6 linked regions of the Homo sapiens genome follow. The protein of the gene in region 5 purifies or fractionates together with the protein of the main gene of each other region. This does not show direct contact. Each region holds a gene or a part of one and is shown on either strand. Other genes may lie near its edges. The genes, in order: FAM83D, NCOA4, EXPH5, ALMS1, PRELID2 and BORA.

The links.
Region 1: the proteins of PRELID2 (region 5) and FAM83D purify together in Homo sapiens (affinity purification with mass spectrometry; one large-scale study listed by BioGRID and IntAct). This does not show direct contact.
Region 2: the proteins of PRELID2 (region 5) and NCOA4 purify together in Homo sapiens (affinity purification with mass spectrometry; one large-scale study listed by BioGRID and IntAct). This does not show direct contact.
Region 3: the proteins of PRELID2 (region 5) and EXPH5 purify together in Homo sapiens (affinity purification with mass spectrometry; one large-scale study listed by BioGRID and IntAct). This does not show direct contact.
Region 4: the proteins of PRELID2 (region 5) and ALMS1 purify together in Homo sapiens (affinity purification with mass spectrometry; one large-scale study listed by BioGRID and IntAct). This does not show direct contact.
Region 6: the proteins of PRELID2 (region 5) and BORA purify together in Homo sapiens (affinity purification with mass spectrometry; one large-scale study listed by BioGRID and IntAct). This does not show direct contact.

What each region holds. Positions count from the first base shown.
Region 1 is NC_000020.11:38,936,417-38,939,916, reverse strand, and holds part of FAM83D (protein FAM83D), read right to left. Parts: intron 1-3,500.
Region 2 is NC_000010.11:46,024,124-46,027,623, forward strand, and holds part of NCOA4 (nuclear receptor coactivator 4), read right to left. Parts: intron 3,406-3,500; exon of another isoform or gene 3,343-3,405; coding exon of another isoform or gene 3,309-3,342; intron 1-3,308. UniProt on the Homo sapiens protein: Cargo receptor for the autophagic turnover of the iron-binding ferritin complex, playing a central role in iron homeostasis. Acts as an adapter for delivery of ferritin to lysosomes and autophagic degradation of ferritin, a process named ferritinophagy.
Region 3 is NC_000011.10:108,538,269-108,541,768, forward strand, and holds part of EXPH5 (exophilin-5), read right to left. Parts: coding exon 3,384-3,500; intron 919-3,383; coding exon 756-918; intron 1-755. UniProt on the Homo sapiens protein: May act as Rab effector protein and play a role in vesicle trafficking.
Region 4 is NC_000002.12:73,455,336-73,458,835, forward strand, and holds part of ALMS1 (centrosome-associated protein ALMS1), read left to right. Parts: intron 1-1,767; exon of another isoform or gene 1,768-1,991; intron 1,992-2,605; exon of another isoform or gene 2,606-3,500. UniProt on the Homo sapiens protein: Involved in PCM1-dependent intracellular transport. Required, directly or indirectly, for the localization of NCAPD2 to the proximal ends of centrioles.
Region 5 is NC_000005.10:145,821,843-145,825,342, forward strand, and holds part of PRELID2 (PRELI domain-containing protein 2), read right to left. Parts: intron 1,293-3,500; coding exon 1,235-1,292; intron 1-1,234.
Region 6 is NC_000013.11:72,744,923-72,748,422, reverse strand, and holds part of BORA (protein aurora borealis), read right to left. Parts: intron 3,443-3,500; coding exon 3,216-3,442; intron 2,480-3,215; coding exon 2,347-2,479; intron 1,923-2,346; coding exon 1,312-1,922; intron 1-1,311. UniProt on the Homo sapiens protein: Required for the activation of AURKA at the onset of mitosis.

The sequences.
Region 1 (3,500 bases), on a different chromosome or scaffold from region 5:
CAAAATTAATAGCATCTGGGTCAAAGGGCTGCTGTGAGGATTAAGTGAAACAAAGCATGGAAAGGGCTTAGCACAGGGAGGGCAAGGCAGGAAACAGGTGCTATTATGCAGCCAGCACCTCCTCAGAGCACGCTGTGGGCTGCACACTGCACTAGGCAGAAAGATGGCTATGAGGAATTTGACATAGACCCAACTTACCTCAAGGAGAGGACACAGGATGCAGAGAGGCAAAATGATATATACAGCCTAAGCAATTAAACTAAGGGGGCCGGGCATGATGGCTCATGCCTGTAATCCCAGTGCTTTGGGAGGCCGAGGTGGGTGGATTACCTGAGGTCAGGAGTTTGAGAGCAGCCCGGCCAACACGGTAAAACCCCATCTCTACTAAAAATACAAAAAATTAGATGAACATGGTGGCATGCACCTGTCATCCCAGCTACTAGGAAGGCTGAGGTACAAGAATCACTTGACCCTGGGAGGTGAAGGTTGCAGTGAACCGAGATCGCACCACTGCACTCCAGCCTGGGCAACAGAGCAAGACTCCATCTCAAAAAACAAAACAAAACAAAACAAAACAAAAACAAGGTGTCTCCTCCAGTGGTGGACTATGGGCACTATAGGTACTCAAATGCTTACCAGATAAGAGCAGGGAAGGCTTCCTGGAGGAGATGGCATTTGAGCTGAAGCACAAGGACAAAATTTGGACAAGGGCATGGGAGAAGTGAAGGGAGGAGAAGGCATTCCCGCAGGAAGCCACATGATAACAGAGGAAGAGGTAGGGCATGACGGGGTATGTACCAGTCTGGCTGGAACGTACAGCATGCATGAAAGGGAGCCACGGGACATGACTGGAAAAGACGGATGAATGAGCAAGATCACAGAAGGCCCTGAATGCCAACCAAGGAATCAGTTTCAATCTTCCCCACATTGCCTGTATAAGAGTAATGAGTTCGAAGTGAAGAATCCAACAGGATGGAAGAAACTGATGCCAGAAGAGATTGGTATAGGTCAGAGATCTGGGCCCACCTCCTCCAACACAGGACCTGCAACACAGCAGTCACGTGGATATTCTTTAGGTTAAGCAACTTCAATAAATGTTTAGGAGGACTAGAGACCAGATGAAGACAAATCAGTAGCACGGCAGAAGCAATGAGGGTTGCAGAAGAGGGAAGGAGATCATGGGAGAGCCGAGCAGTGGGCGACATGGGCTGAGGATGACAGGGAGAGGGATATTCAGATACAAGGAAACAGGAAACACAAGACAAGAAGCAAGAGTGAGGGGTGAGCTTCGAAACGGATTTTGAGGTGGCAGTAAAACCTTCAAAAAGAGGTTTGGAATATGCAGGTGTACAAATGAGAGTAGAGCTCACAGGAGAAAGCTAAAGAGGAAAATGCACACACCTGCTTGCCTCTCTGATTTCCCACTCTTCTTTCAAATCTTCATTGTGGACCCAATCGAGGCAGGCAGGTGTTGAGCACTGAGGATCTAGTGTCAATCCCTGTCCTCAAGAACGCAGTCTAATGAGACAGGAGACAAGCCAGGGGTAACAGAGTGTGACGGGCCAAAGGACACGTTCCCTCAGTGCTACTGGAACAGAGATCAGAAAAACCCAGCCCAGCTGCTGGATTAGAGACCTGCTGGAGGCAGGGGCATGGGCCTGGGGGCCCACAGCACAAGGCACGGCCAAGCTGAATTTTGATTCACCACTTAACAAAACAATTGTGCAACACCTTTGTTATATGGTGAGTAAATACCTAATTTGCTATTTGTTCCATTGTTTGGTTTTAAAGCCTCACCCTTTCCTGTGCGTTGGATTTGAACACTAGTCCTTAACACCATCAGGGTGCGTAGGGTTGATGGAGGTTTTTTTCTTCCCCTGACTTCCCCTACACCCAGCATCCACTCCTTTCTTACTAAAGCAGGACTCTTAAAAATATTCGTCTATTTTTTTGTTTCTGGAGATGCAGTTTCACCCTGTCGCCCAGGCTGGAGTGCAGTGGTGTGATCTCGGCTCACTGCAACCTCCGCCTCTGAAGCACAAGCAATCCTCCCACCTCAGCCTTCCAAGTAGCTGGGACTACAGGCACACGCCACCACACCTGGCTAATTTTTGTAGACACAGAATCCCACCATGTTGCCCAGGATGGTCTCCAACTTCTGAGCTTAAGTGATCCACCCACCTTGGCCTCCCAAAGTGCAGAGATTACAGGCATGAGCCACCATGCCCAGCCAAAAGTACTTGTCTTTTACAGAGGAAAAGTCCATAGTCCTACTGTAGAAGCAATCAGTAGGGAAGTCTTCCTTCAAATCCCCATCCCCATCCCCCATTCCTGTGTCCCAGCCCTCATGCAACCAATCCCTGCATAGCTGAAGTAGACCTGGGGCTAGACTGAAGGGACACTCTCTTCACTGAGCTGAGCAATGACCTGGACTCATCCACTAACCGGCCGAGTCCTGCTTTCCAAGCCAGGATGCAACTCCTAGGTATCCGGTGCTCTTGCTGCAGCCTGTGGGTCCAGAAATACACCTGATGTGTATTTGGCCACTGCTCCCACTCCTGGAGGCAATAATGTGCGAAGGACAATGGCATGTCTGGAAGGCAGGCAGCCCTTGCACATCAAGTGCCCACAGTCATGGCACTCTCCCAGTCTGTGCTGCATGGAGCCCACCCACTCTCTAAGGACTAGAAAGTCGTGAGAGTGGTGACTTTCAAGAGTCCCTTCCAGGGTCAACACCCATTTGCAATTTGCAACTCAGTGCAAGTCAGTTACAACAGGAGACGTGAGGAGGACGCATCCAGCTGGTCAGGGGCATAATGGCCGGCCTGCTGACCAGGACCCCACTGTTCCTGCACTTCTCCAGCCATATCTGGAGCAGCTGCATGTGTGTCCACTCTCACATCATCATCTCAGGTAACAAATCACAAGCCTACCTCTCTCAGTCCTTCTACCTGTCCCCTCCTGATTTGTACCAAGGGACTTGGGAACCTATGTAGTTGAACAGCAGACGTCATGATGGCCTTCTTGGTCTCTGGGAAGGTCACAGACCCTGTTTATGTTACTTGCCACATAGAACTGAACTCTTTTCTGCTTGCCTTCTTGCACAAAAGCTCAAAAGTGCTATCTAGAAATTTCAAAACCCCATTACCTGTCATCCCCAATTTATAGATGAGAAAGCCAAAGCTTGGAGAGGTTAGGTAGCTTGTTCAAGGTGACAAACTTAAACAAGTACAAGGGCTGGAATTTCAACCCAGGTCTCTGTGACTCCGGAGCCATCTAAAAAAAGTACTATACTCAGTATTTTATATCATTCCAACCAAGTTTAATGGGCAGTTTTTCACATGACTGGAAGCTTAGAACAAACACTAAAGGATCAGTGGCGTAGCCCATGAAGTGCATGGGCTCAAGCTCACCACGGATGATTGACAGTACCTATCTCATAGTGTTTGCTGGCAGTTCCTGGCATATGGAAAGCCCTTAAATGGCAGCTACTCATATTC
Region 2 (3,500 bases), on a different chromosome or scaffold from region 5:
TTTCTGGGACCCCAATCCAGGCATTCATTATCAAAAATAAGAAAATTTCTCCCTAATTCCAAAAGCCCTCCTTGGATAATACATTTCGTAAAGACACAAAAAAAACAGACATACTTCTGAATGACTAAAGTTACAATTTTATGGTCCTTTGTACTAATTTACATCAATGGCAACAAAGAAGGAATTCTATTAAAATATAACTCATGTCAGGAACTTTCATCTATTTTATGTGCCTCTGAAAAATGGCTGATCACAATGTAAATACAAAGAAACTTTGTTGGCCGTCACCTACTTAACCAACGGTCTCTGTTCTCTCTCTAAAAGATCCTGACCAACGCCCCAGCACAGTAAAGTCTTCAGCTACTCCCCTATGTATATGTTCACTGAGTTTCACAGTTATATTCATTTGTGTTTCTCTCCTCAAGCCAGCTGTAGCTGTTACTATAATGATGTGATTTATTAAATATTACATAAACATAAAAAGACTAAGGAGAAAGAAAATCACAAAAATCTAAAATTCTGCACTCAGACCACTTTACATGTAGCTTTTTACTCCCTTATGCTTCAGTATTTGCCCTTGTGTCTTTATAAAATGTTTAGGTTCTAAAGGGGAAAAATGCATAAGGTATTTTACCTCTCTTCTGCTTCAAGAATTTCTATGCTGTCTCAAAACAACAACCAACCATCCCAAGTAGATCATCTCATCTAAAGCAGCGTAGCTCTCCTATGGCTCCCCATTTGCCTACAGGATAAAGTCCAAATTTCTTTTAAAGGCAATAAGGCTCCTGAGTTAGGGTTCTCCAGAGAGATGGAACATTATATAGACAGACATAGATATAGACATAAAGATATATACAGATATAGATATGAGAGGGGATTTATTAGGGGAACTGGCTCATGTGATTAGCAGGCTGAGACATCCCATGACAGGCTGTCTGCAAGCTGGAGACCCTGGGATGCCAGTACCATGGCTCAGTCCAAGTGCAAAGGCCTCAGAACCAGGAAAGCAGATGGTGTAACTCTCAGTCTGAAGCCAAAGGCCTGAGAACCCAGGGGGCCAATGATACAAGTCCTGAAGCCCAAAGCCTGGGGAGCCTGGAGTTCTGTTGTCCAAAGACAGGAGAGGAAGAATGTATCCCAGCTCCAGCAAATAGATCTGCCTTTTCAATGTTTTTGTTCTCTCTGGGCCCCAGCAGATTGGATGGTGCCCACACACACTGAGGGTGGATTTTCCCCACCTAATCCACTTGGATTCACACCCCAATATCCTCTGGAAACAGACACACCCCAAAATAACATTTTACCAGGTTTCTAGATGTCCTTAATCCAGTCAAGTTGACACCTAAAATTAACCATCACAGCTGTCTATTTCCTGGCCTCACTCTGACTCTCCTGCTGTCTCCCAGAACAGCTCCCACACCCTAATCTACTGGACAGCTTTTCTATGCATAGGATAGTTTGGTTTATCTTGTGCAGCTTGGCTATGCCAGTTCTGTCAGCAATGCCAGTCTCTCCTCTTCTCCCTACCTATCTGCTTTTCAAGTCACCATCACTAACTACAAAGCCTTTCCTGACTGAGCACCTCACTCCTCAATACTTTTGGCCAATAGAGTTGGCTGCTCCCTCCTGCATTACCACTGTAATCTGTATGGGTTTCCGGCAGGACGCCTGTAACATATGTTACCCTATTGTTACATGCCTGCCTCCTTAGCCTGAGGGCTCCATGAGAGAAGAAACCATGTCTTATTTATGAATTAATAGCTTTGTACATCCTAATACTAAGCAGACAACCTGGTATCAGTACCTTGTCATTACCAACCGTTCACATTCTATGTGTGCCACTGAATCGACATAAAGAGAAAATGTCCCTGGCAATTGTACAATGCTTCACCCTAAATTCAACAGAGGCCTAAGACATTTTGGACAAACGGATGAATATATGATAAATTAATGTTTAGGTTCAGACTAGCCACAGTAAGTATGGTATAGTTCTGCTTTAAACATAGATAATCAACTTGATGTCCCACTAAGGCCTGTATTAATGCAGGAAGGTTTTTTCAGAGAAAGAAAATGTTTCTAGCACAACTATTACTTTTGGCTTTTTTCAAACAAGACAAAGCTGGCAAGGGTGTTGCCACTGAAAGTATGATCCCAGAATAAGTGCTGAGATAGTGTCTTTCCTGCTGCCAGAACCACAAAGCTCAGCTTCATGGATTCACACAAATAGCAGCAAGATTGTGGGTTAAAGGGGACACATTTACTGTATTTTACAGCCAACTCTGGATTTTTTCTTCAGAGTTGGCAGTACCACAGAAATTCTAACTGAATTTCAAGTTGAATATTGGGGGGACTATATTCAACTTGAAACTTCTTGCCATAATAGAGTCAAGGATAGGAAAATATGTTAACTTACCTACTATCACAGTAATAATGCCATTTTATCCTGATTTTATATGGCAAACACTTTGTGGTTCTCCCCATAGAAGCCAACAAGTGATAAAATATTAATATTTTCCCTCCTTTAAAGCCTAGAGGACTAACAATAATGCCAAAATAAAGCTCAAAACACACCTGAGATTATCTTCTTTTGAAAGCTGAAATTGTCTCAGTATTAAAAGACTTAACTTCTCACCCATGACCAAACTGACAACAAAACCTTTTAACCTATTTTGTGAGCTACTCACTACTTCACTGAACCAAACTGCCATATTTGTAGAGCACTTAGGTAATGCTGCATAAGAGGAATATTAAGCCCCAAAGGTGCCCCCAAACACACTGCTAACCCCAAAGAGGAACATCTTGATTAATCAAGCCAAGCAAAATTAGGGATGACAACTTGGGATAAGAATGACTAAGAGTGGTCCGGGCGCGGTGGCTCACGCCTGTAATCCCAAAACTTTGGAAGGCCGAGGCGGGCGGATCACGAGGTCAGGTCAGGAGATCAAGACCATCCTGGCTAACACGGTGAAACCCCATCTCTACTAAAAAACACAAAAAATTAGCTGGGCGTTGTGGCGGGTGCCTGTAGTCCCAGCTACTCGGGAGGCTGAGGCAGAAGAATGGCGTGAACCCGGAAGGCGGAGCTTGCAATGAGCGGAGATCGCCCACTGCACTCCAGCCTCCTGACAGAGCAAGACTCCGTCTCAAAAAAAAAAAAAAAAAAAAGAATGATTAAGACTTAAGACTGTAGTCATTCATATCAGAAGTTAAGCATTGCAATGTTATGATTTAACAATCAAAGAAGATAAGCTAAGGACAATATGGCAGCTCCTCTAACTGACATGCATGGAGATAGTATTAATGCCTACCAGCTAGAGCAAAAGTGGTCAACTGGGCCCCCATTCCAGCCTAGACCTCCACATTGTTCATGTGCGTTCTATGTTGAAGCAATGTGTCCAGACATAACTGTATGAAAACAAAGTCAAGATGAAAACCTTGGATGAAAATTTTAAAAGGACTAAAAAGTAGCAAGAAGAGTAATAAAAAATGCCATGGCCTTC
Region 3 (3,500 bases), on a different chromosome or scaffold from region 5:
CCTTAAGAGGGTGGGAAGCTTTGAAACCAGGAAGACATGCCGAAAATATTTAGCAGTCAGCTCAATTGCACTTAAGCATAGCCTTGCTTGTTTTTCACAAAGTAATCCAACAACATAATGAGTCAAGTGAACTGATTTGCACAGTTCTAAACTGGGAACCATCTGGAACTAAGTTTCCACTGCTCCTAAAGCTTCTCCTCCCTCACCTTATACATTCTGAGCAAACACATGGGAACAGCCTTCAGTATTTCTAGTAACAGTAATTACATTTCCTCCCTCTGTTTTAGAATTCTATTTTTCTCTAGTCTCTTTGTTCATCTCACATTTTCTCTCATCTAGTCGTTACCCCAACTCTCCTTATGACCAGGACGTGACCAGGACGTGACCAGGACACATACTCTGCAAAGAAGGAGTAGTTTTTATTTAAATATATCTTCCTGGACAGGACATAGGCCAGACTCTTGGAGCAGTGGAAAAACTGGCAATCATTATTTCCCAATATTTAACCCATCACTCACCAAATGCACCACCAATGCACTCTGCAGCTCGTTAGAAGTTGGATTTCAGGTGAGCCACATTTCATGGTTTCCTAAGAACTTTGTCACTATGCAAGTTAAGTCCCATTTCCTTTGTTCTTAATACCAATTGAATTGAAATTCTAAGAACAAACATTAAACATTTTGAACACAAAACAGGCTGCTGGCCTCTGATATCGGATAACAAATGGGCCGTAACATGACCTGAGTTTAACTCACCCTTTCTGTCCCAGTGATGGAAGCTTTGAAGTCTCCTTTCCAGATTTCCTGAATGAGAACAGGGAAGCAAATGACGATCTGAAGCTCATCCGGGAAGAAAAAGGTGTCGGCTTTTTTTGATTAGTTACATTTTTAGATCTTGATGTAGGTAATTCTATCGGATCTAGAAAAAAAAATTGTAAAAATTTTGCATCAATTACTTCCAAGTAAATATACTTGAAAGAATGAAGCCTTTGCTCTTGTGTCACTTTCTCCCTCTTATGCAGACTAGAAACAGGGCAGGCAACCTCACATGAAGACCTCAGGGATTAAGGCAGTCAGAGCAACCTCTCTCCTGCGCCTCTGATGGTTCTGCTGCATAGAGAAAACTCAAATTAGTAGGGAATCTTTCCATGTGTACTGTGAATCAGAGTTCCTAGAGTGTTCCTCCTCTCACCCAAGCTAGGAAATCAGGGACCCCATTCAATTCTCATGTTCCTTAACCATGCTGTCCTTCAGAAGTTTTTATTTCAGTACCTTAAAACCATGGTGATAGATACATACTACATAACTTCTTATACTGAAGAAAGTAAAGGAAAAGGAAATTAAGCCATTTAGATTTTTCTTCATTCCTTTCCAAAATCTCTCTCTGTGGATATGTATTTGCTACACACATGGTTTACATATGTGTTTGCATGTAACATATACAGGGTGAGCATCCTAAACCCGAAAAACTTGAAATCAAAAATTTCCCCAAAATCCAAAAAAATTTGAGCACCAACATGATGCTTAAAGAAAATGCTCATTGAAGCCTTTCAGATTTGGGATTTTTGGATTTGGGATGCTCAACTTTTCAGCTTATATAATGCAAATATTTCAGGATCTAAAAAGATCTGAAATTGGAAATACTTATAGTCCCAAACATGTCAGATAACGGATATTCAACCTGTTTATGTATAATATATATGTATAGATAATATATGGGTATCAAAAATTCAAAGGCAACATCAACATATACAAAATCCATAATATTGGCCAGGCACGGTAGCTCACGCCTGTAATCCCAGTACTTTGGGAGGCTGAGGTGGGCGGTGCATCACCTGAGATCAAGAGTTCGAGACCAGCCTGGCCAACATGGAGAAACCCCGTCTCTACTAAAAATACAAAAAAATTAGCCAGGTGTGGTGGCGCACGCCTGTAATCCCAGCTACTCAGGAGGCTGAGGCAGGAGAATTGCTTGAACCCGGGAGGTAGAGGTTGCAATGACCTGAGATCATGCCACTACACTGCAGCCTGTGTGACAGAGTGAGACTCCATCTCAAAATAAATAAATAAATAAAATTAAACAAAATCCATAATATTATAATGATTTGGGACATGCTGACTTTATAAATATTAGGGGAATTTAGGACAAGGGAAAAGTCATCAGGGTATGTATGGGGGTGATCTAAAAAATCTGAACTGTGAGTCTTTTTACGTAGATATGTTTATTATGAGAGTTGCAAGATATTATCAACATAGAAGTTTAGAAGTATTTTTACATGTTTCATGATGTTACTAATGTTAATAACATGCAAAAATGCAGTCAATGTGACTCCGCGTCAGTAAAAAGATATTTTATTTTAGTATTTTATAGTTTCTAGTGCACTTTGGTTATCTTCTCAATAGTCCTGTGAAAGCAAGTTTTAGTATCCTTTTAATCTATATAGAAGGCATTTATTAGAAGTCATTCATGGAGTTTACCAAAGTTCCAGAAGTGTGGCAGCTCCTCCACCACCTTCCCTCCCTTCTCCTCTGATCTCTGATTCTCCCTTCCTCCACCCCTCCCCTTTTTCTTCCTCCCCCTGCATCATAGTCATCCCATTTATTTAAGTGCTTACCCTGTTCCAGCTTAATATTCTATTATTTTTTTTTTATTTGAGGTGCAGTCTTACCGCTGTTGCCCAGGCTGGAGTGCAGTGGCATGATCTCAGCTCACTGCAACCTCTGCCTCCCAGGCTCAAATGATCCTCCTGCCTCAGCCTCCAGAGTAGCTGGGGCTACAGGTGGGCACCACTATGTCCAGCTAATCTTTTATTTTTCTGTAGAGATGAGGTTTCGCCATGTTGCCCAGGCTCGTCTCAAACTCCTGAGCTTAAGTGATCCTCCTGCCTCTGCCTCCCAAAGTGCTGGGATTGCAAGTGTGAGCCACCCCCGACCCCCTGCCCAGCTTAATACATTATAAACATAATTTTACTTAATTCTCGTAACCACCTTATGAGGTGTAGGTATCATTGCATTCATTTAAAGATGAAGCAACTGAGGTTTACAGAGAATAAATGACTTGGACAGACTCGCATGAATAGAGACAGAGTAGAGATTTGAATCCAGGCCTCTGTTGACATCAGTGTCTATATTCCTACCCACTATGCTATCTTGCCTGATTCAAAAAAACCCAAAAAACAAAAAAAAATCCAAGACATTATTACAGTAAAATTTCAGTTCACTTTTTTTTTTTAGTGTATATTGTATTATAAACTTTTGTGGCTTATGACTTTAAAATAGTTCTAAACATGGATTGGTTACATTGGAGATCCACTGGGCCATTATCTACAATACTATGCCACAGAAACAAAGAAATCAACTTTAAATCTAAAATCTTTTTCTTACCATTTTTTGCCATCTCCTTACTTAGCCTGTATGTAAGTGGTTGTTTTAACATTTGGCTAACATCTGTTTCATTGCAAAACTTTTTTCTTTGAATTTCTTCAAACCATTCACCAGTCA
Region 4 (3,500 bases), on a different chromosome or scaffold from region 5:
GAATGGGTGATGGAATTAGGATCTCTTACTTGGGCATCAGTTGAGTTGCTGATAATATTTGGCTAAAGCCTTTTTTGGTTTTGTTTTTGAGACAGTCTTGCTCTGTTGCCCAGGCTGAAGTGCAGCAGTGCAATCACAGGTCACTGCAGCCCTGAACTCTTAGACTCAAGGAATCCTCCCACCTCAGCCTCTCAGGTAGCTGGGACCACATGTGTGTACCGCCCTGCTCGGCTAATTTTTAAATTTTTGGCAGAGACAGGGTCTCTACGTTGCCCAGGCTGGTCTTGAACGCTTGGATTCAAGCGATCCTCTTGCCTTGGCCTCCCAAAATGCTGGGATTACAGGCATGAGCCACTGTGCCTAGGCAGGCATCTTAATTTTTCAAAAGTTAAGATATAAGTATTAGATTCTTACAGTCTAGATATGTTGTTTTTATTGATTCCAAATTCATATTTTGAAAAATTTATCTTCTTAGAAAAATAAGAACTGATTTGCTTGTTTTATCAATTTTTTTTTTAAGAACAGAGAAGACTAAATGTCACCCTTATTTTCTCTTGAAAGTGGTATCTTGAAATCCAGCTATTTTCAAATGTTTATTTTAAATACTTGAGTACACAGCTATAATAGCTTATGTATAAATGGCTTTCATTTTAATAGTACATATTTTCCTTCTATTAACTATTTCATATGTAGAAAAGAGCATATATGAATCATTTATGTAAAGAATAGCAGCAAGTAAAAATAATTCCCATATATTTACTATCGAGCTTGAGAAATAGAACATTACCAAATACTGTTGAAGTTCTTTGTTTCTCCTTTCCCAGTCATATCTTTTTTATTTCTTATTTTGATATATAATGATTTTCCTTCTCTTCAGTATGGTTTTGAACTCTAAGATGGAATCAATATGATACATATTCTTTTGAGAACTAGGTGTTTCACACAGTGTTAGGGTTTTGAGCTGCTTCTATGTAGATGTGCAGAGTTTTCATTTGTTCCTTATTACTGTACAGTATTCCAGTGTGTGATTACATGATAATTTATTCTTTCTCCTGTGGATAAGGCATTTTGTCTGCTATTTTGCATAGTAATAGGGTATAATAATGCCTATCGTAGAGGGTTTTGGTGTGGATTATGTGAGATAATGCCTATAAAATGCTTAGTAGAACGTGTGATGTCTAGTTAGTACTCAGTAACTGGCAGCTATTATTACTATTATTAATCCTGAAAGAATTGATATAGCTATCATGCAAGGATTTCATGGCCTGATTCATACAAAGTTTCTTAGAAAACTATTCTCCAGTGATATAGTTTATTTGGATTATCTCAATTTTGGAAAAGTTTGAAAAGTACAAATTAGATTGGATTTTAGGTTTTACGTATATGCTTGTGAAAAACAAAATTGACAAAATAATAAGAATAATAAAATGGGCAATTGGTTGTCTTAGCACCATTTGTATATATGCTGCCAAAGTGAGCACTATCCTAGCATCATTTGTTTAAAATTACATAGTTTTCTCAGTGATCTGTGTTTCCCTATTTTTAAAAATTATTTTCTTGCGTTCATATTTCCAGATCCCTCAGCAAGCAAGTTGCCTTCCTTTGGGTAGACTCTGGTTTGTCTGTGTTTTTCTTAAAATAAGGTGTCCTGAATTAGATGAAACACAATTTCACTTCTGATCTGACCAGCATGAAGTATATTCAGTAATTCTCTTTCTGTCAATGTACTGTGAGATCTTTAATGGTCACAGCATAATTGGGCATTAAAAAAAACCATGTACTGCTTTCAAAACTTAAAGCTGTAGGAAAAAAGCAAAGCAAAACAAACCAAACAAAAACCATGAACTGCTGCCAAGATTCCTATTCTCATTTCTTGTATCTATATAATACTTTTTTAAAAATCTTCTTATTTTTGAGACAGAGTCTCACTTTATTGCCCAGGCTGGACTGCAGTGGCATGATCTTGGCTCACTGCAACTTCTACATCCCAGGTTCAAGTGATTCTCCTGCCTCAGCCTCCCGGGTAGCTGGGATTACAGCTGTGTGAGTGGCGCATGACACCACATCCAGCTGATCTTTGTATTTTTAGTAGAGATGGGGTTTCACTATGTTGGCCAGGCTGGTCTTGAACTCCTGACCTCAAGTGATCCGCCTGCCTCGGCCTCCCAAAATGCTGGGATTACAGGCCATTACGCCTCGCCCTATGTAATACTTTTTAACTCTCCTGTATTTCTTTTTATTGCTTTTATATCAGTGTTCAAGCCTATTGGAATGATTTTTAATCAAATTTGATCATTTATTTTATTAAAATATCCCTTTCAGCTTTGTGCCATTTATATATTTGATAAGTATTTTTATCCAAATTAGCAATAAAAATGTTTACTAAGGGCTATGGATAAAAAGTCTAAAACTTTTGGCTGGGCGCGGTGGCTCATGCCTGTAATCCTAGCACTTTGGGAAGCCAAGGTGGGTGGATCACTTGAGGTCAGGAGTTCGAGACCAGCCTGGCCGACGTGGTGAAACCCCGTCTCTACTAAAAATACAAAAATTACCTGGGTGTCATGGTGCATGCCTGTAATCCTAGCTACTCGGGAAGCTGAGGCAGGAGAATTGCTTGAACCTGGGAGGTGGAGATTGTAGTGAGCCGAAGATTGTGCCAGTGCACTCCAGCCTAGGCGACAGAGGGAGACTTTGTCTCAAAAAAAAAAAAAAAAAAAAGGTCTAAAACTTTTGAATAAGATTACTCTCACACCTATTTTGAGTACTTCACTATACTGTCATTCAACCATCTTGTGTTTCACCATCTTATGATTGACTTTTTTCAGTCTATTAACTGAGTAGTTGCGAAATAGTGTTTGTCTAGATATGCCTTGTCCTTAGGGAACCCATATTGGCCACACTGTGTACGGTTTTGGACCTTTTATTTTTTTAACTTAAATATATTAGGATTTCCCTTTAAAACTTCTCTAAAAGCATAATTTCACAGGTATGTAATATCCCATTGTATGAACATAACAATTTATTCACTACCCTACTGTTGGACATTTATTCATTCATTCCAAAAATACATATTGAATGCCTGATATGCGCCATCCTCATCTATAGCCTGAGGACACACCACTGAACAAAATAGACAAACATTTCTTCATCATGAGCTTACATTAAGGAAGAGTATATGAATAACAACCAAACAAGTAAAATAAATGTCAGATGGTGGGATAAGAGCCAGGGAGACAAAGCAGAATGGTCAACACAGAACCTGAGAAAGAGGTATTGAATTAAATATCTGAGTAAGGTGAGAAAGTAAGGCAGTTAACAGTGACAAGAGCATTCCAGACAGAAATAGCATGCACACAGTTGCTGAGGTAAAGTGTGTGAAAGGAAAGGGAGTGTTAAAGGAAAGGGAGGAGGCCAGTGTGTTTGGAGAGTGAGAGTGAAAGGGAGAAGACTAGATTGTGGAAGGCAGTGGTTCTTGACGGGTAGTAAATGCCTCCCAAAGA
Region 5 (3,500 bases):
AACCTAAAAACAAGATTATTTTCCCGTTTGACAGATGAAGAAACTGAGGCTCCAAAAAGTTGGGTCACCAAGGTAGTAATGAAATCAAGATTTGAAATCCAGTTTGTCTGATGACAAATAATAAGTTTCTCTCACACTGCAGGTACATGAGAAAATATTTTTAATATATCTATATGGTTATAGAATTACAGAAAATGCATATACAAGCAAAAGGCAGTTATGTTTACCAAGCACAGAGAGGGCTTCAGAGTCACACACAATGAACAGTAGCATCTCATGATTCCTAAGAAGGGTAAAGAGCATGCTGGACCTAGGCCCCAGTGTCCCCAAAGCTTTGTACATTGACTATGTGCATTGTCACAGCTTCCTGCATTGCCCAGTTCTCAAGTTTAAACACTGACACTAATAATGGTTTTTGCTGGAGATGGGGATAACACAGAACAGAAGAGATTCCTATGCTCTAGACCAGGAATCAGTAAACATTTTCTGCAAAGAATCAGGTGCTAAATAATTTAAGTTTTGTGGGCAATAAAGTCTCTGTGGCAACTGGTCAACTCTGCTGTTGTAGTGAGGAAGCAGTCGTAGATGACATGTAAACAAATGTGACTATGTTCCAGTCAAACTTTATTTACTAAAACAGGCAGCACAAGCCATAGCTTGTCAACTCCTGATTTAGTCAATGCTAAACCACACTGCCTAGTAGTTGTGATTCCATAAGCCATCACTTTATAGTCATATCTCGTATTTAATCATATGCATTTTGCCATCTACAAAATGATATAATAGGCTACAGCCATGTGACCTTGAGCAAGTCACTTAACTTCTCTGTATCCCAGTTTCTCCATTCATTAAATGAGTAGTCTAACACCTATTCCAAACATTGTTCTGAATATTAAATGAATTAATAAGAGTACCTGCCACATATTAAGTGCTCAAAAATGTTAGCAGTTACAATTATATATAGCTCAGTGTTGTCATCAATTATTAGTTAGAAAGTGACAAAAAGCATCAGCAGGCCTTTTACTATCACAAATCCTGGTGCTCTACCTGCCACACCTTTCTAAGTCACCTCAAGTACAGAAATATACCTGTTTAAAAACTAATAATGGAAGAAACTGCAGGTGAACAATTTTTTAAAAAAAACCTAATAGGCCACACACACACGTACACACATCTTTACAAAAATCACTATCATTTAATGATCATTACTGAAAAAACTGTACAGAGAACTTACCTCTTTTTTCCTCCATGATTTTTACTGAGATGACATTTTTATCCATGGGGTTGGGGTACTAAACAAAAATATATAAAAAAGAATTACCATTAATCTTCTACCAAGGTGAACTATTTAGAAGTAACCACAGCTGTCTGCAGGACTAGTAAATATTTTCCAAGAAACTTCTAAACAAAGCCCAGTTTTGAATCATGGATCTTAATTTTATAACTTGGGCCTAGATAAGTGAGATGCTATCATCATCTTGACTTACATGAAATCTGGGGAAAACCTTCTTTAGATCCAACTAGCCCTGAGGGGGATGAGGTTAAGCTAATCAGTAAATAATAATACTATTAATATTGAACCAGCCTAACATAAATCAAGAGTGTTCTTTGTGCTAGGCACTGTACTAAATGCTTTCCTTGCACAATCTTGTCTAAATCCAACAGCCTCTCTGTTATAACTGATTTATGTGATACCACCATCCCCATCTTTCAGATACGGAAACTGAATGAAGACTGGATTGCTTAGGGTCACCCAGCTGGCTCCTGGTGGAGCCAGGGAATTAAACCAGGCCTGTTTAATACAGAGTGGACCTCTTCACTGTGGTCTAATATCATTGTCTGGTGGCTGGGTTAGCATCACAGTAGCATAGTCATAGAAGTATGCTTTGCTAGGCACATAGTAAATACTCAATAAATATTTAACATGTTAATTTAATTCCCCTGAAAAGCAATTTGGCTGTGACAAGGTTGATAATAGCCACTGCTTTTGTCGTAGGCAATTTAAATACTTTAGATACATTAGCTCAGTTAATTCACAAAACCATTCTATAAGGTATGTGTTATTTTTTCCACTTCATATATGAAAAATAAGGCTTAGACAAATTAGATAATTTGCTCAAATTGTCCAGCTAATGAATAGTGTATCTGGGGGGTAACATAATTTACCCCCGATACTTTCTGCCAGCCTGCAAAGCCTGCCCACCTAACCTACCACCAAATCACCTAAGAGTTAAATTAACACAATCCTTTCCACTACTCAGATGTGAAAAGAGAGACACTGGGAGCAGAAGTGACCTCCTAGAAGCCACAGGACAAGGTAGCTGCTGACCAAAGCCTACTGAGCCCCCTTGGACTCTCTTCCCTGAGGTTTACCGACGTATCATGTGATCAAATCTGAAAAGAAAATTGGCAGGAAGTCTTATCCATGACATCACAAAGTGCTGAGCAGAAGGCAAAAGCAGCAGGCAGGCTGAGGGGAGAAAGAAGAAAGGCCCCTCACTTTGCAAACTTGAGCTTTAAGTTTTCCGAACCCTAGGAAGTGAAATACAAAACTCTGACTGTGGGTCTCCACCCACAGCAGGCGTGTGTGTGTGTGTGTGTGTGTGTGTGTGTGTGTGTGTGATATTGATTTATTAATGGATTTTTCAGGGAAAGGGGTTCATCATTTTAACACATTCTTAAAGATATCTGTGACCCAAAAAGACACTAGATTAGAACACAGGCTCTCTGAGGGCAGGAATACTGTCTATTTCAGTTACTCCTGTATCTCCAACAGCCAGCGTAATGCCTGGCACATAAAAAGCACTCAGTCAATATTTTCTGGATAAATAAAAAATTGGGAATATAAACCTCAATGACCTCAGGGATCAATTTGGAAAATGAGCCTGCCTTCAGTCAGAAACCAATCTATGAAGAGAGCAGTGGCTCAGCTTTCAGCAACCTCAATATCTCTTCATGTTTCATGTTGGTAAACTCTGTCATTCACACTTCCATCCTGGAAACTGAAATCTTGATAACTGATGAAAAACTTGGTTTTTAAAAATCTATTTATTTATATATTCATTCATTCACTCATTTTAGCCCTAGAAAAAAAAATGCTTGGCTGGGCATGGAGGTTCATGCCTGTAATCCCAGCACTTTGGGAGGCTGAGGCGGGTGGATCACTTGAGGTTAGGAGTTTGAGACCAGCCTGCCCAAAATAGTGAAACCCTGTCTCTACTAAAAATACAAAAATTAGCCAGATGTGGTGGTGCATGCCTGTAGTCCCAGCTACTCAGGATGCTGAGGCAGGAGAATTGCTTGAACCTGGGAGGCGGAGGTTGCAGTGAGCCGAGATCATGCCACTGCACTCCAGCCTCGGTGATAGAGTGAGACTCTGTCTCAAAAAAAAAAAAAAAAAAAAAAAAAAAAAAAAAAACTTGGAACTACAGTGATTGCTTTCTTGAAGTTCAGCCCTTCCGAGTTACATGCCCATGACAGAGGGTCAGGTTTAGATACTC
Region 6 (3,500 bases), on a different chromosome or scaffold from region 5:
AATTAATAAAGTGGTTAGAAGAGTGCCTGGTATATCAAAACACTATGTGCGTATTAGCTATTATTATAAGTCAGTATTAACTTTTGGATTAAAGAACATGGACTCTAAAGCCAGACTGCTGGGATCAAATCTCAGCTCTTCCACTTACTAGTTGTATAGAAACTTTAGGTAATTTACTTAACCTCTCTGACCCTCAGTTTCCTCATCTGTAAAACAGGGATAACAGTACACATACCTCACAGGATTGCTGTAAAAATTCAACAAAGTAAAACATGTAAAGGTCTCAGAATAGGACTTGGCACATAGTAATGCTACGTTAGTGTTAGATGTTATTGCTATCCCCTTCTGACTAAAGTCAGAACTTCTAAAGAAGTTCCTTCAAAATTCTCAGCTCAAAGAACACAACAATGAATGGAACAAATGCCTTTCCAAAGTGCTAATTATGAAGTATACGTATCTGTTAAATGAATCAGGTTTTCCTGTTGTCAGAGACATTGCAAAATTGGAAATGTATAATTTCATGAAAAATGTTGCTATAAATCATGTTTCTAAAAGAAAAGCACAAAAATGCATACATAAAAGAACTCTAAGGCCAGGCGCGGTGGCTCATGCCTATAATCCCAGCACTTTGGGAGGCTGAGGTGGGCGGATCAACTGAGGTCATGAGTTCGAGACCAGCCTGGCCAACATAGCTAAATCCTATCTCTACAAAAATACAAAAATTAGCCAGGTGTGGTGACGCACACCTGTAGTCCCAGCTACTCAGGAGGCTGAGGCAGGAGAATTGCTTGAACCCAGAAGGTGGAGGTTGCACTGAGCCAAGATCACACCACTGCACTCCAGCCTGGGTGACAGAGTGAGACCCCATCTCAAAAAAAAAACCAGTGCTCTAAACTCTTTTTATCCCCCCTAAATCACATAAAGGAAAAACAAAAATGATTTTATTTTTAGAATGCAAATACTATACCAGACCTTGCATGTTTTGGGGGACTGGATCCACATGAAACAGTGATGAATCCTGCCTGACTCTAGCAGGATTGATTTCTCTAGAGCAGGCTAATTTCTTTTCTGCTCTTACCTTTTCCTACTCCATACAAATATCAGTTAATGTGAATATAAAATATGCCTTATCTGTCATAATTAAAATAAATTTACTCTTCTCATATCACTTGGTATTAATATTTTTAAAAAATATTATATAATACTGTAGTCCTCATGTTTAATCCATTATCTTTCTTATACTATAATCTTAGAAAGGATAAAGAACACCAAGGCAGTGAGGAAGGGGCTATAGAATATTAAATACCTTACCTGAATGTTACTGCTTTCACAAGGAATGACACTGCTTTCAGCAAGAGGTGACATGCACATATGAGAGTTTTCAATACTGAAGGCAATGCCACTTACAAAATCAGTCATGGGTAAACTGCCATTATCAACCGGCTCCTTAATCCAAGTGGTCTCATCTGCTATCTCTATAGGATCAACCATATCCACAGTGTTATTGTCTTTCTCCCTTTCAACATCCTGCAACAGTGCTAATTCTTTCTCAGAAGCACTGGACTGATTTTGTGTAACAGACATGGCAGTCACAACCAAATGTGTACCATGGGTAGAAGCCTCATTACTAAACTGCCGTAGGTGTATTCCAGCAGCATCCATGGCGGGTGATGAGACATCTGTGGAAGGAATATTCTCTTTATCTTCCTCATCTTCACCTTGAGTCTCAAGAGTAAAAGGTATCTGAATCACTGAGGTCCGATACTGAGTACCACCACTATACATCTGAAGTCTCATAGGAGACCAATTTTTAATTGGCGAGCAGCCATCTATATAAGGACTTCTGATACACGGATTAGTTATCCCATTAGAATTTGTTCCAGATGAAGCATCAGGAGAATGAACAGTAAACTTCCTTTGTTCTGAAAGGTGGGAAGGGAAAAAAAATCACATCATAAAAACATGAAAATGGAAAAGTCACTACTAAATGGTAATCATGTTTCATGCCAGGAAAAACTGCATTTCTGTAACAGTTGTGTTGTTTACCAAAGTGAAATTGTGATGTCAAAAACAATAGCACAAATGGAAATTGCTAAATTTCCTTTGATAGTGTTTGATGTAAATATTGCTAATTAAAGTAACTATATTTAACACTACAGTACAAACTGGTGAGAATTCCAGCCTTTGAAGGTAAACTGTTCTTTTATTTAAAAATCAAAGTTCCTAAATGTTAGAAGGTTAGTGATCATTTTGAGCTCTATCATTAAGACAAATTAAAAGAACCTCTCTAATAACAAATATTGATAGTATAAAACTTTTAACTAGGTATTTTATTATGAGACATACCTGAGAGTGGAGTCTCTCCTATCTGAAATTCAATTGGTGAGAAAGTGGGTGAAGAAATAGGCGAAGGACTAGTTATGCTTCCCAAGCTGTATTTTTTTGCACTAGCCTGAATAGGGCTAGAAGAAAACTGCCCCTGTAATAAAATTAAATAGTAAATAAATGTATATGGTTCTCTTCCTTAACTCTTATGCTGCATGCTATTTATCATGGTCTTCAAAACACACTTATAAACTAGTAATAGTTCACGAGAACCACCAAAAGACACCTTGCAACAAAGACAACTAAGAAGATTGCTACAAAAATTCTGAAATAGTATCAAATATGTTAGTCAAAATATAAACACATTGTATTTGAACAAACCATTAAGTTTCACACTAAGCAACCATCTGTGAAAAATTTTTAAATTTATTAATGCCAAGCCAGTTGTATTATACTGTAAATCTCACACACTTTAGTAAATAACCTATGCTGAATTTCCTTGAGACTCATGATAAATCTGGTCATCCTGTACATATCTAAATACAAAATTGAAGAGTCTGACCTAAAACATCCCTATGACTAATGATAACATACGAACTAGAGTTAGTTTCTGTGAAGCATAATACTCAAAAGACAACCATCCCTCCTTCTGAAAGCAATCTGGGCAGCTCACAGGGGTGTCCAAGGGAGAGAATACAGTCATGAGTTCTTAGTTTCTGTTTCTGGTTAGGCCAGTAAAGGCCCTTCCTCATCCCTCTTTTCCACTTATTTACTAGAGACAGAAAGCAACCATGGCTTCAGGCTGCTGAAAGCCTAAGATAGAACAACAACAAAATGTGGGTTCAAGCTTGACAGCATATTAGCCAACTGCTTTTTAGTATACTTCTCACCGAACTTGGTGTCTGCAAGGGGCTCCTACACTTTACAGGAGACAAATCTATTGAATAAAACATCTCTAGTGATGTTTGAACACCACTGTGAGGACTTCCGGGAGAAGCCGAAGGTAAGGAGTCGGAGATGCTTCCGTTCCCATCTAAAAACAGCTTTCTTCTGAGGGATGAAGAACTGAGGTTTCCAGGAGATTGATCTGCAAATTCATCAGCTCTAAAATAGTCACCTATATTTAATAATAGGAGAAAAGGCAAAGCTAGTCATTTTAAAGGGCAATTATACTT